3 linked regions of the Homo sapiens genome follow. The protein of the gene in region 1 purifies or fractionates together with the protein of each later gene. This does not show direct contact. Each region holds a gene or a part of one and is shown in the gene's direction. Other genes may lie near its edges.

The links.
Region 2: the proteins of HLX (region 1) and SLC25A31 purify together in Homo sapiens (affinity purification with mass spectrometry; one large-scale study listed by BioGRID and IntAct). This does not show direct contact.
Region 3: the proteins of HLX (region 1) and TLE2 purify together in Homo sapiens (affinity purification with mass spectrometry; 2 studies listed by BioGRID and IntAct, with this or other methods). This does not show direct contact.

What each region holds. Positions count from the first base shown.
Region 1 is NC_000001.11:220,882,350-220,885,618, forward strand, and holds the end of HLX (H2.0-like homeobox protein), read left to right. Parts: intron 1-1,845; coding exon 1,846-2,355; 3' UTR 2,356-2,710; downstream 2,711-3,269. UniProt on the Homo sapiens protein: Transcription factor required for TBX21/T-bet-dependent maturation of Th1 cells as well as maintenance of Th1-specific gene expression. Involved in embryogenesis and hematopoiesis.
Region 2 is NC_000004.12:127,764,849-127,768,500, forward strand, and holds part of SLC25A31 (ADP/ATP translocase 4), read left to right. Parts: intron 1-2,217; coding exon 2,218-2,372; intron 2,373-3,652. UniProt on the Homo sapiens protein: ADP:ATP antiporter that mediates import of ADP into the mitochondrial matrix for ATP synthesis, and export of ATP out to fuel the cell.
Region 3 is NC_000019.10:3,005,235-3,008,886, reverse strand, and holds part of TLE2 (transducin-like enhancer protein 2), read left to right. Parts: coding exon 1-18; intron 19-2,217; coding exon 2,218-2,467; intron 2,468-2,918; coding exon 2,919-3,166; intron 3,167-3,302; coding exon 3,303-3,450; intron 3,451-3,652.

The sequences.
Region 1 (3,269 bases):
TAAGGCAGTTCTGGCTCCAGCGCACAGCGCCCTCGGGCGGGCAGCAGCGCACGGCCTAGTCTGGTAGGTCCCCTCCATCCCGGCCGACTGGCCTCCTGCGGTGCAAACGCAAGATCTTGACTTTCAAGAGGCTTTGTGGACTACGCAACTTGAGGCAGGAGAAGAGGAGGGTGGAGATGGGGTGAGGGAGAAGGACCGAGAGAAGAGCTCATCCCCAAGATGTGTGTCAACAAGCACTGCATGTTTATTTTGGCCAACAGGCTAAAGAACCACGGAGAAAGCAAAAGGGCCGCTGGAAATAACACTGATACACTCAACTGTAGTGCAATTCGCTGTAGGAGGCAGTTTATTTCAGAAAAGATAAAAACCCAAAGGCAAGAGATTGTTGTTGGGTTTTTTTCCCTCTCACCCTCCCTCCTTCCTCCTCCTCCTGCTGCTTCTGCTGGATTGTGAAATCCCCAGTTGTGAGGAAGTGAAAATATAATTTCAAACGGAATTAGTTAGCTCCAGGAGGGCAGGGAGTCTGCTTGGAGTGGCCACACATTACAAGGCTTAGGCTCTGAAGAAAATCTGAAGGAAGGGGAGAGGTGAGGGAAAGAAAGAAAGAAAAATGATTCTCTTAGAATACCCAAGAGCATTTCAGCAGGTTCTGCCTATTTGAATTTTTTCAAGACAATAGGAAATGTATTGTGGCTGAAATAATTTTATTCTTTTTCTTAAATTTAAGAACTGGGCTTCCCCACCCCCCACCACCCGAGCTTTGACTGTGGAAGAGTCACTCTTGTGCACCCCATAGCACTGGCTCTGGCTCTGGGGTGCTGATTTTCCCCAGCAGGTCAGAAGCCAGAGGCAGGCTTCTTTTTCTTAGCTCCTTGGTCCCCAAATTGCTGTCTCTGTTTCTTTCTGACCTCCATTACACAACTCTTCTCCCCAGTACACACACACACACACACACACACACACACACACACACACACACACACGAGGAGCCCAGCCGTTTTCCACCAGCTGTGGATGTTATTTTTAAAAGGGAAGCTGGAACTTGTGTGAATGCGTTGGGTCCCCCAGGGGATCGTATATATCTGTATAGATTCTCTGCCCCATCTCTATCCCCTTCCTTAATTTTGCACACATTTAATTCCATTGTTTTCTGAGCCCCCAGGAGAATTTGTTTATCCTTAACAGGGGCAAGGTCCTTATCAGCTCTTGCGTACAAACACACCAAAGAAATGCTGTCTTACTGAAAGCCCAACAATGCCCCCACCCTACTGTGATTAACAGTTTAAAACCCCTTTCCCTTTCTGCTTCCCATGTTTCCTTTTTTGAAAAAAGTATTGCTTTGGGTAGTGGCAGTAGAGGAGAGGGCCAACTTAGAGCAGGAATTCTTAACACTGGCACACCAAACCCTTGACATTGTAAGCAATATCTTGGGCATATGTGTATTTTTCTGGGCTAGGAGTCCATAACTTTAATCAGATTCTCATGGGGGTCCTGGCATAAAAAAATTACATGGATTTAGAGTAGAGAGAGAGTATGTTGGGGGTCGGGTGCAGGAATCTGCCTTTCCAACAGTCACTCAGGTCATTTTAGTCCTGGGGCCTGAGGGTTGCATTTTGAAAACGGTCTTAGTGGGTTCCCTAGGCCAGGATTCCTGGCTTCTTGTGTTCCCCTGGGCTGCCCCTTGGCTCCTGCGCCTACCACAGTGTCTGGTCCTTGGTAGAGTCGCCAAGTAAGCGTTGCTTTTTCACTCAGGGAGGTGGCTTGAGGGTGCACGCGAGTCGGATAGGAGCAAACCTGGGTCTCATCTCGGTGTCTCTTCTTGTCTCCCGGTGTGGCGCGGCGCAGGTGAAGGTGTGGTTCCAGAACCGGCGGATGAAGTGGCGGCACTCCAAGGAGGCCCAGGCCCAAAAGGACAAGGACAAGGAGGCTGGCGAGAAGCCATCAGGTGGAGCCCCGGCTGCGGATGGCGAGCAGGACGAGAGGAGCCCCAGCCGTTCTGAAGGCGAGGCTGAGAGCGAGAGCAGCGACTCCGAGTCCCTGGACATGGCCCCCAGCGACACGGAGCGGACTGAGGGGAGTGAGCGTTCTCTGCACCAAACAACAGTTATTAAGGCCCCGGTCACTGGCGCCCTCATTACCGCCAGCAGTGCTGGGAGTGGTGGGAGCAGCGGCGGCGGCGGCAATAGTTTCAGCTTCAGCAGCGCCAGCAGTCTTAGTAGCAGCAGCACCAGTGCGGGTTGCGCCAGCAGCCTTGGCGGCGGCGGCGCCTCGGAGCTTCTCCCTGCAACACAGCCCACAGCCAGCAGCGCTCCCAAAAGCCCCGAGCCAGCCCAAGGCGCGCTTGGCTGCTTATAGACTGTACTAGGGCGGAGGGGATCCGGGCCTTGCGTGCAGCCTCCCAACCATGGGCTGGGTTTTGTGCTTACTGTATGTTGGCGACTTGGTAGGGCAGGAGACGCAGCGTGGAGCCTACCTCCCGACATTCACGCTTCGCCCCACGCTGCTCCGACTGGCTGCAGCGGACACTGCCCAAAGCAGAGGGGAGTCTCAGTGTCCTGCTAGCCAGCCGAACACTTCTCTCCGGAAGCAGGCTGGTTCGACTGTGAGGTGTTTGACTAAACTGTTTCTCTGACTCGCCCCAGAGGTCGTGGCTCAAAGGCACTTAGGACGCCTTAAATTTGTAAATAAAATGTTTACTACGGTTTGTAAAGGCCGCTTGGCTTTGCTGGGGGTTGTTAAGGCCAGAGATCTACAACCGGACCTTAGTCCCGGGGACACTGTAGAATGCAGCAGCTGAAGGTGGTGGGGCTGGAGTTTCAGGGGAAGTGGCTCAACCTCAGAGCCATCTTGTTACAGACATCAGAGATGGGCGTCTGGGTTTAGAGGCTTCTAATTAAGAGATTTCTAGCGCCAACTGCCACTGAAAGTGCCCTCTGAGACCCTGAGTAGCCTGAGAGTGGAGCAGGCCATAGAAACTGTTAGGCCAGTGCAACAGATGGTTTCCCCATTCACAGTATGGACGAAATGAGTTCCTAGAGTACTCAGAGTTGGAATGGGGAAGGCAGTGATGCCAGGCGGGGTCAATCTAGGCACAGCTGTAATCACTATGTGGACGCGAAGCGCGGGCCCAGAGCCCTGCACAAACTTTTCCTTGTTCCGGGATGGGGTAGAGGACAGGTTTGCAATGTTGCTGAGGAAAGGACAGACATGACACAGTGGTTAGAGCTGGAAGCTTGGGTCTTAGAGTGCCAGGGCCCTGGTTGTAAACA
Region 2 (3,652 bases), on another chromosome or scaffold:
AAAAAGTGTTTGTCTTACCCTCTCAAAAAGGGTAAGACATATATGAAAGTCTGAGTTTAAAATTATTTTCCTTCACAATTACGAAAATATTACCCTGACTTCTAGTTTCTAATGTTGCTCTTAAGATACCAATTTGCTTACTCCGGATCCTTTAGTATATGTTTTTTCTTTTTAGTTTCTTTCTATCCCTGATGATCTTATATTTCACAATAAAATATCTTTATGTGAGTCTTTTTTCAGTGTTTGAGTGATTGCAGCGGTCACACAACTGGCCCCGTTAAATCTGGAGCCTTGTGTTCAGTTCTGTGGGTGGCAGCACAGTAAGTCATTTGGCTGCTCAGGGTGAGGTTGTGGATATTGAGCATCTCCCTGCTCCTTTGCTTTCATCCTGGAAGTAGTAGTTAGTTCCTCTAATTTCTAAGTCTTTCTGAGGTTATTGTGATCAAATGGCTTGCTTCCCAGCAGTATCTTCCTCTGTAAGAAAATAGGTTCAGCTTTTTCTGCTCTATTTGGTGAATTACCACTCCTCCCTATTCTCTCCATCTGGCAAAATTTTGTAGATTTCATTCTGTCATGTTCTCTTATTGGCCTATCTGGCTTTAAACCTGTTTTATTTCATTATTATTAATGTAACAGAGTTTCTTTAGGGTACAGAGATTCATTCAACAAATATTGAGTGCCTTCTGGAATACAGGGTGCCTGCAGATACAGGGCGTGTGTGAGTGTGTATATGCGTATATATATGCACACATATTCACACCCCACCCCCCATGTAAGACATAGAGCTCATGCCTCATGTACCTAAGAGTCTAGTGGAGGACACAAGTAATAATAAATGAATAAATGACTAAAATATATTGTCACTTAATGATAAATGCTAGGGAAAAAAGTTAGAAGAGAGTGATAGCAGTTTTAAATAAGTGATCAGAAAATGTCTCAGAAGGGGTGGCAGTTTGAGCAAAAATAAAAATGTGAGTTTCATCTATTTAACTGGAAGTTGAAAGTTTATTTTTATTAATAAGAGGGTAAAAATAACTCAATATTATCTTGCTTTAAGTTCCATAGTTTTGTTTTCTCTTTCAAATCAGGAAGATTTAGTTTATTTTTGGAAGATTACATTGTACATATATAATAGTTTTAAAATATTGTCAAGGAATTCTTGGTCAAGGGAAAAGAAAAATAAAACCAGAAAATACTGGAAAAATATGACCCCTTCATATGAAATGTTAACTATCTTAAACTATCCTTACTAGTTTTTAGCTTTATCTTTTTGCTTTTCAACAGTCCTGGAGTTTTTTTATTTGTTTTTTTTTTTGTTTTTTGTTTTTGTTTTTGTTTTGAGACAGTCTTTCTCTGTCACCCAGGCTGGAGTACAGTGGCATGATCTCAGCTCACTGCAGCCTCCACCTCCCAGGTTCAAGCAGTTCTCCTGCCTCAGCCTCCTGGGTAGCTGGGATTACAGGCGACCACCACGACGCCTGGCTAATTTTTGTATTTTTAATCGAGACAGGGTTTCACTATCTTGCCCAGGCTGGTCTTGAACTCCTGACCTCGTGATCCACCCACCTCAGCCTCCCAAAGTGCTGGGATTACAGGCATGAGGCACTGTGCCCTGCCAATTTTTCCTTTCTAAGTGTTTCTTTGTTTTGTTTTGTTTTGTTTTAATAGAGACAGGGTCTTACTCTGTTGCCTAGGCTGGAGTACGGTGGCACAATCATAGCTCAGTGAAACCTCCAACTCCTAGTCTCAAGTGATCTACCTGCCTCAGCCTCCTGGCTAATTTTTTTTATTTTTTGTAGTGGCAGGGTCTCACTGTGTTGCCCAGGCTGGTCTCGAACTCCTGGCCTCAAGCAGTCCTTCTGCCTTGGCCTCGCAAAGCACTGGAATTACAGGCATGAACCATCTCACCTGGCCTGTTTCAAATTATTTTCTGAACCTCAATTAGTAACTTCTGGTAACTTTAATAAAATACTTTAAGGCAGGTTGTTTGAAGTAAATTGTTTTCATGAGAGATTAATATTTTCCATTTATTTCTTTTGAGATAGTACTTGAAATCTTGATTATCTGTAAAAGAATGGGAGGATTTTGATTTGTGCCTTCTTTGTTAGATTTGTAAGTGGGAATTTCAGATCATTTAGATCTGTAAAGGTTTATTTTGATTAAAGTGTTTATTGGATATATAATGTTGCTAATAGATTTTAAATGGCTTTATTTTAGGTCCTGAGGAGCGACAATTCAAGGGTTTAGGTGACTGTATTATGAAAATAGCAAAATCAGATGGAATTGCTGGTTTATACCAAGGGTTTGGTGTTTCAGTACAGGGCATCATTGTGTACCGAGCCTCTTATTTTGGAGCTTATGACACAGTTAAGGTAATCTGGGGGCTTTAACTTGGACATATTAAATATATGGTTTCCATTTATTTAATTAGTAATGTTTTCAGCAGATATGTTACTTTTAATTATAAAAATAAAAATCAGTGATGAAAAAAGAGAGACATGAAATTCTGCTTAATCATGATTTTGCCATAACCTAATTAAATTATAACTGCAGTATGGATCTGACTTTAGTTATAAAGCATGTATCTAAGTTTTTGAGGTGTTTTCACTGTACATCACATTGCAAATGAAAAACACGCTAATTAAGCTTACATCATAATCAAATCATTGGTATATGGAAAGGCATCTTCTAACAGTTTTTCTGATTTTATGTTAACCCTATTATCACTTTTTTATATTCAAATAATAAAATGTCATTTTGAGAAGGAGACAAAGCAAAATTAATTAAATAAATGCTACTGTAGCTTGGTTATCTACCGGATACTGTTAGATTCTGTGTTGTATTCTCCAGGTTGTTCTGCAATTTACCTTTTCATTTCAGATTTTAAGAACACTTCCATGTGGTAGGAAAAAGAAAAATTGTAACAATGGCTACCAATTTTTAGCTATTACCTAGTTCTAGGAAACTTTTTAAAGTACTTTACATCTTGAATCTCAGAAATCACTGGTAAAGAACTTACCCATGTAACCAAAACACTACCTGTTCCCCAAAAAACCTATTGAAATAAAAAGTAATAAGAAAATAAAGATAATTGTAGTTGTTTAAAATAAATAATAAAAAAATAAAATCCCCCCTTTGTTTAAAGATAAATAGCCTAGGAATTGTTAAGTAAATAGCCTAGGAATGGTTAAGTAATTTACTTGTTAAAGGCAAGCAAAAAAAAATCCATGTTCTTAATGACTACATTATAATGCTTCCAAAAGGAAGCAATGAAATTAATATCAGTATTATTTATTAGTATAATAAATAATTATACTATACTCCTTCATTAGTATAAATGTAGTTGCATGGCATTTTTATTGTTGTCTGGACAGATCAGTTTTTAGTGTATTTTTTAGACTGCTATGTTAATGAAAATTACAGGATCTTGTACATTTATTTAATCACAAAAAAAGTTATGTGTGTACTCTGTCTCTAGTTTGTTATCACCTGCAGTAGTTATGAAATTTAGGAACATTTCTCCACTAGTTTTAAAGCTGCCCATCAAATATGTGTTGATGATAAAAGCAAGCATTTGTTTCACTTTTTTTCAACCCCACAAGGAAGAGCCATGGAAGAACTTCTTTTTTGTCAATGTCTGCTATCTTCCCTA
Region 3 (3,652 bases), on another chromosome or scaffold:
CATCCCTGGGGGAAAGCCGTGAGTACCAGGGTGGGGCTCCCTGCCTGGGGTCCCGGGCCAGCCCCCCACCTCCTCTGAGGTCTTACCCTCTGTGGTTGGGGTCTCCCTGCTTCCCTTCTAGAAAGTCTCTTGTGTGGGCCGGGCACAGTGGTTCACTCCTGTAATCCCAGCACTTTGGAAGGCTGAGGCAGGTGGATCACTTTAGGTCAGGAATTTAAGACCAGCCTGGCCAACATGGCAAAACCATGTCTCTGCTAAAAATACAAAAATTAGCCGGACGTGGTGGCGGGCACCTGTAATCCCAGCTACTCGGGAGGCTGAGGCAGGAGAATCACTTGAACCTGGGAGGTGGAGGTTGCAGTGAGCTGAGACCGTGCCATTGCACTCCAGCCTGGGCAATAGAGCGAGACTCAGTCTCAAAAAAAAAAAAAGAAAAAAGAAAAAAAGTCTCTTGCATAAGCTACTCAGAGTTCCACTGGCTCTCCATAGAAGTAGACTCTGACCCCCCAGGGGACACTGGGCGATGTCGGGGGACACGTGTGGTTGTCACAGCTGGGGGAGGAGACGTTCCTGGCCTGGAGTGTGGAGGCCAGGGATGCTGCTTAGCATCCTGCATTGTCCAGGATGGCTCCACCAGAGGAGATCTGGCCACAGTGTCCACAGAGCTTTCTGCAGTGATGGAAGTGTTCTAGACCCACTGCTGGCCAACCCAGTCGCCACCAGCTGGGCGTGGCTTTCAGTACTTGAAATGTGGTCAGTGCAACTGAGGAGCTGAAAAGTTTTGTTTTGTTTTGTTTTGTTTTCTGAGACTGAGTTTCGCTCTGTCCCCCAGGCTGGAGTACGGTGGTGAGATCTGAGCTCACTGCAACCTCCACCTCCTGGGTTCAAGCGATTCTCCTGCTCCAGCCTCCTGAGTAGCTGGGATTACAGGCACGGACCACCGCCGGCTAATTTTTGTATTTTTAGTAGAGACAGGGTTTCACCATGTTGGCCAGGCTGGTTTTGAACTCCTGACCTCAAATGATCCACCCACCTTGGCCTCTCGAAGTGCTGGGATTCCAGGTGTGAGCCACTGTGCCGGCCTGAAAATGTTTATTTAATTTCAGTTCATTTAAGTGTTTTAACTGGTCACAGGTGGCCGGGGCTCCTAGGACAGACCCTCTAGCTGGTCTGGAACACTCAAGGTTTCTTTGTGGGTCCTCGGTTGAACGAACATTTATTAAGTGCTTGTTTACCATGCGCCACACCACAACCTAGACTCCCTGTGTATTTGTGCCACCCACTGACTGTCCCATATCACCTTTGACCACATTGTCCTGCCTTTTTCCTAAATCAGAGGCCGAGCACCATGGCTCACTCCTGTAATCCCAGTGCTTTGGGAGGCCAAGGCGGGAGGATCACTTGAAACCAGGAGTTTGAGGCCAGCCTGGGCAACATAGCAAGACCTCATCTCTACAAAATAATAACAGAGAAAATTACTTTAAAAAATGCATCAGAGGCTGGGCCCGGTGGCTCATGCCTGTAATCCCAGCATTTTGGGAGGCCGAGGTGGGAGGATCATTTGAAGTCAGGAGTTTGAGACCAGCCTGAGCAACATGGTGAAAGCCCATCTCTACTAAAAATACAAAAAAATTAGCCAGGCGTGGTGGCCTGCACCTGTAATCCCAGCTCCTTGGGAGGCTGAGGCAGGAGAATCACTTGAACCCCGGAAGCAGAGTTTGCAGTGAGTCCAGATCACGCTACTGCCCTCCAGCCTGGGTGACAGAGCGAGACTCCATCTCAAAAAAGAAACAAACGCATCAGGCTGGGCATGGTGGCTCACGCCTGTAATTCTAGCACTTCGGGAGGCCGAGGCGGGCAGATCACTTGAGGTTAGGAGTTCAAAACCAGCCTGGCCAACATGGTGAAACCCTGTCTCTATTAAAAATACAAAAAACTTAGCCAGGCATGGTGGCGCATGCCTGTAATCCCAGCTACTCGGGAGGTTGAGGCAAGAGAATCGCTTGAACCCAGGAGGCAGAGGTTGCAGTGAGCTGAGATCGGGCCACTGCACTCCAGCCTGGGCGACACGGCGAGACTCCCTCTCAAAAAACAAAACAAAAAATAAAAAACACATCAGAGGGTGCCAGGCAGGACAAAGGCGTCTCCCTGCCCTCCCAGGTGCGGGTGCGGGGGCGTGGTGCCCAGGGCTGGGTCATGCCCCGGCTTTCTCTCCAGGGCCTACTCCTTCCACGTGTCTGCGGACGGGCAGATGCAGCCGGTTCCCTTCCCCTCGGATGCACTGGTAGGCGCGGGCATCCCGCGGCACGCCCGGCAGCTGCACACGCTGGCCCATGGCGAGGTGGTCTGCGCGGTCACCATCAGCGGCTCCACACAGCATGTGTACACGGGCGGCAAGGGCTGTGTGAAGGTGTGGGACGTGGGCCAGCCTGGGGCCAAGACGCCCGTGGCCCAGCTCGACTGCCTGGTGAGGGCGGGGTGGGACAGTGGGCGGGACTCACAGGTGAGGGGTGGGGCTTATGTTCCAATGGGGCGGTGTTCGCAGGCTGGCCGTGGGTGGGGCTACAGGTGAAGGGCGGGGCTTATAGGTGAGGGGCGGAGCTCGTAGTCGCATGGGACAAGGCTTGCAGGCCAAAGGGGTGGGGCTCTGGCCAATCTGAATTGGACTTGCAAGACAATCAGGACAGGGTTTGCAGGCCAACCATGGGTGGGGCTTATAGGTAAAGGATGGAGCTTATAGTCAGATGGGGCAGTGTTTGCAGGTCAAAGGGGCGGGGCTCACCAGCCAATCAGGGTAGGGCTTGCAGGCTAATCAGGATGAGGCTACATTGGGCTCCAGAGACCCCCACGTTGAGCTAGGCTCCTAGAGACCTCACCTGGGACCAACCCCCAGCCCCTGCTTCTCTCCCCGACCCCAGAACCGAGACAACTACATTCGTTCCTGCAAGTTGCTGCCGGATGGCCGGAGTCTGATCGTGGGCGGTGAGGCCAGCACCTTGTCCATTTGGGACCTGGCGGCGCCCACCCCCCGTATCAAGGCCGAGCTGACTTCCTCAGCCCCAGCCTGCTACGCCCTGGCCGTCAGCCCCGACGCCAAGGTTTGCTTCTCCTGCTGCAGCGATGGCAACATTGTGGTCTGGGACCTGCAGAATCAGACTATGGTCAGGTGGGTGGCAGGTGCGCTGGGACCTTGGGCAAGCCCCCGGCCGCTCTCGGTGCAGGGGGAGTGGAGGAGTGTGACCTGGGACGATGCTGGGGCAGCTCGAATTCCAGGATGGACGCCTGGGCCCTTCTCCCTCCAGGCAGTTCCAGGGCCACACGGACGGCGCCAGCTGCATTGATATTTCCGATTACGGCACTCGGCTCTGGACAGGGGGCCTGGACAACACGGTGCGCTGCTGGGACCTGCGGGAGGGCCGCCAGCTGCAGCAGCATGACTTCAGCTCCCAGGTGCTGTTCGGTTCTGGCAGGAGGGGGATGGAAGCTCTAGGAATACAGCATCCCTTCCTCTCCTTGTGAGGTGCCCACTTCCAGAGGCAGGACAGGACAGGACTCCCATCTGCTGTGGTGTCCATCTTTCTTGTCCCCCAGACACATCCACAGGCTTCCCCTGTAACTCTCTAAAGATGTAGGGGAACACAAAAGAGCTGAT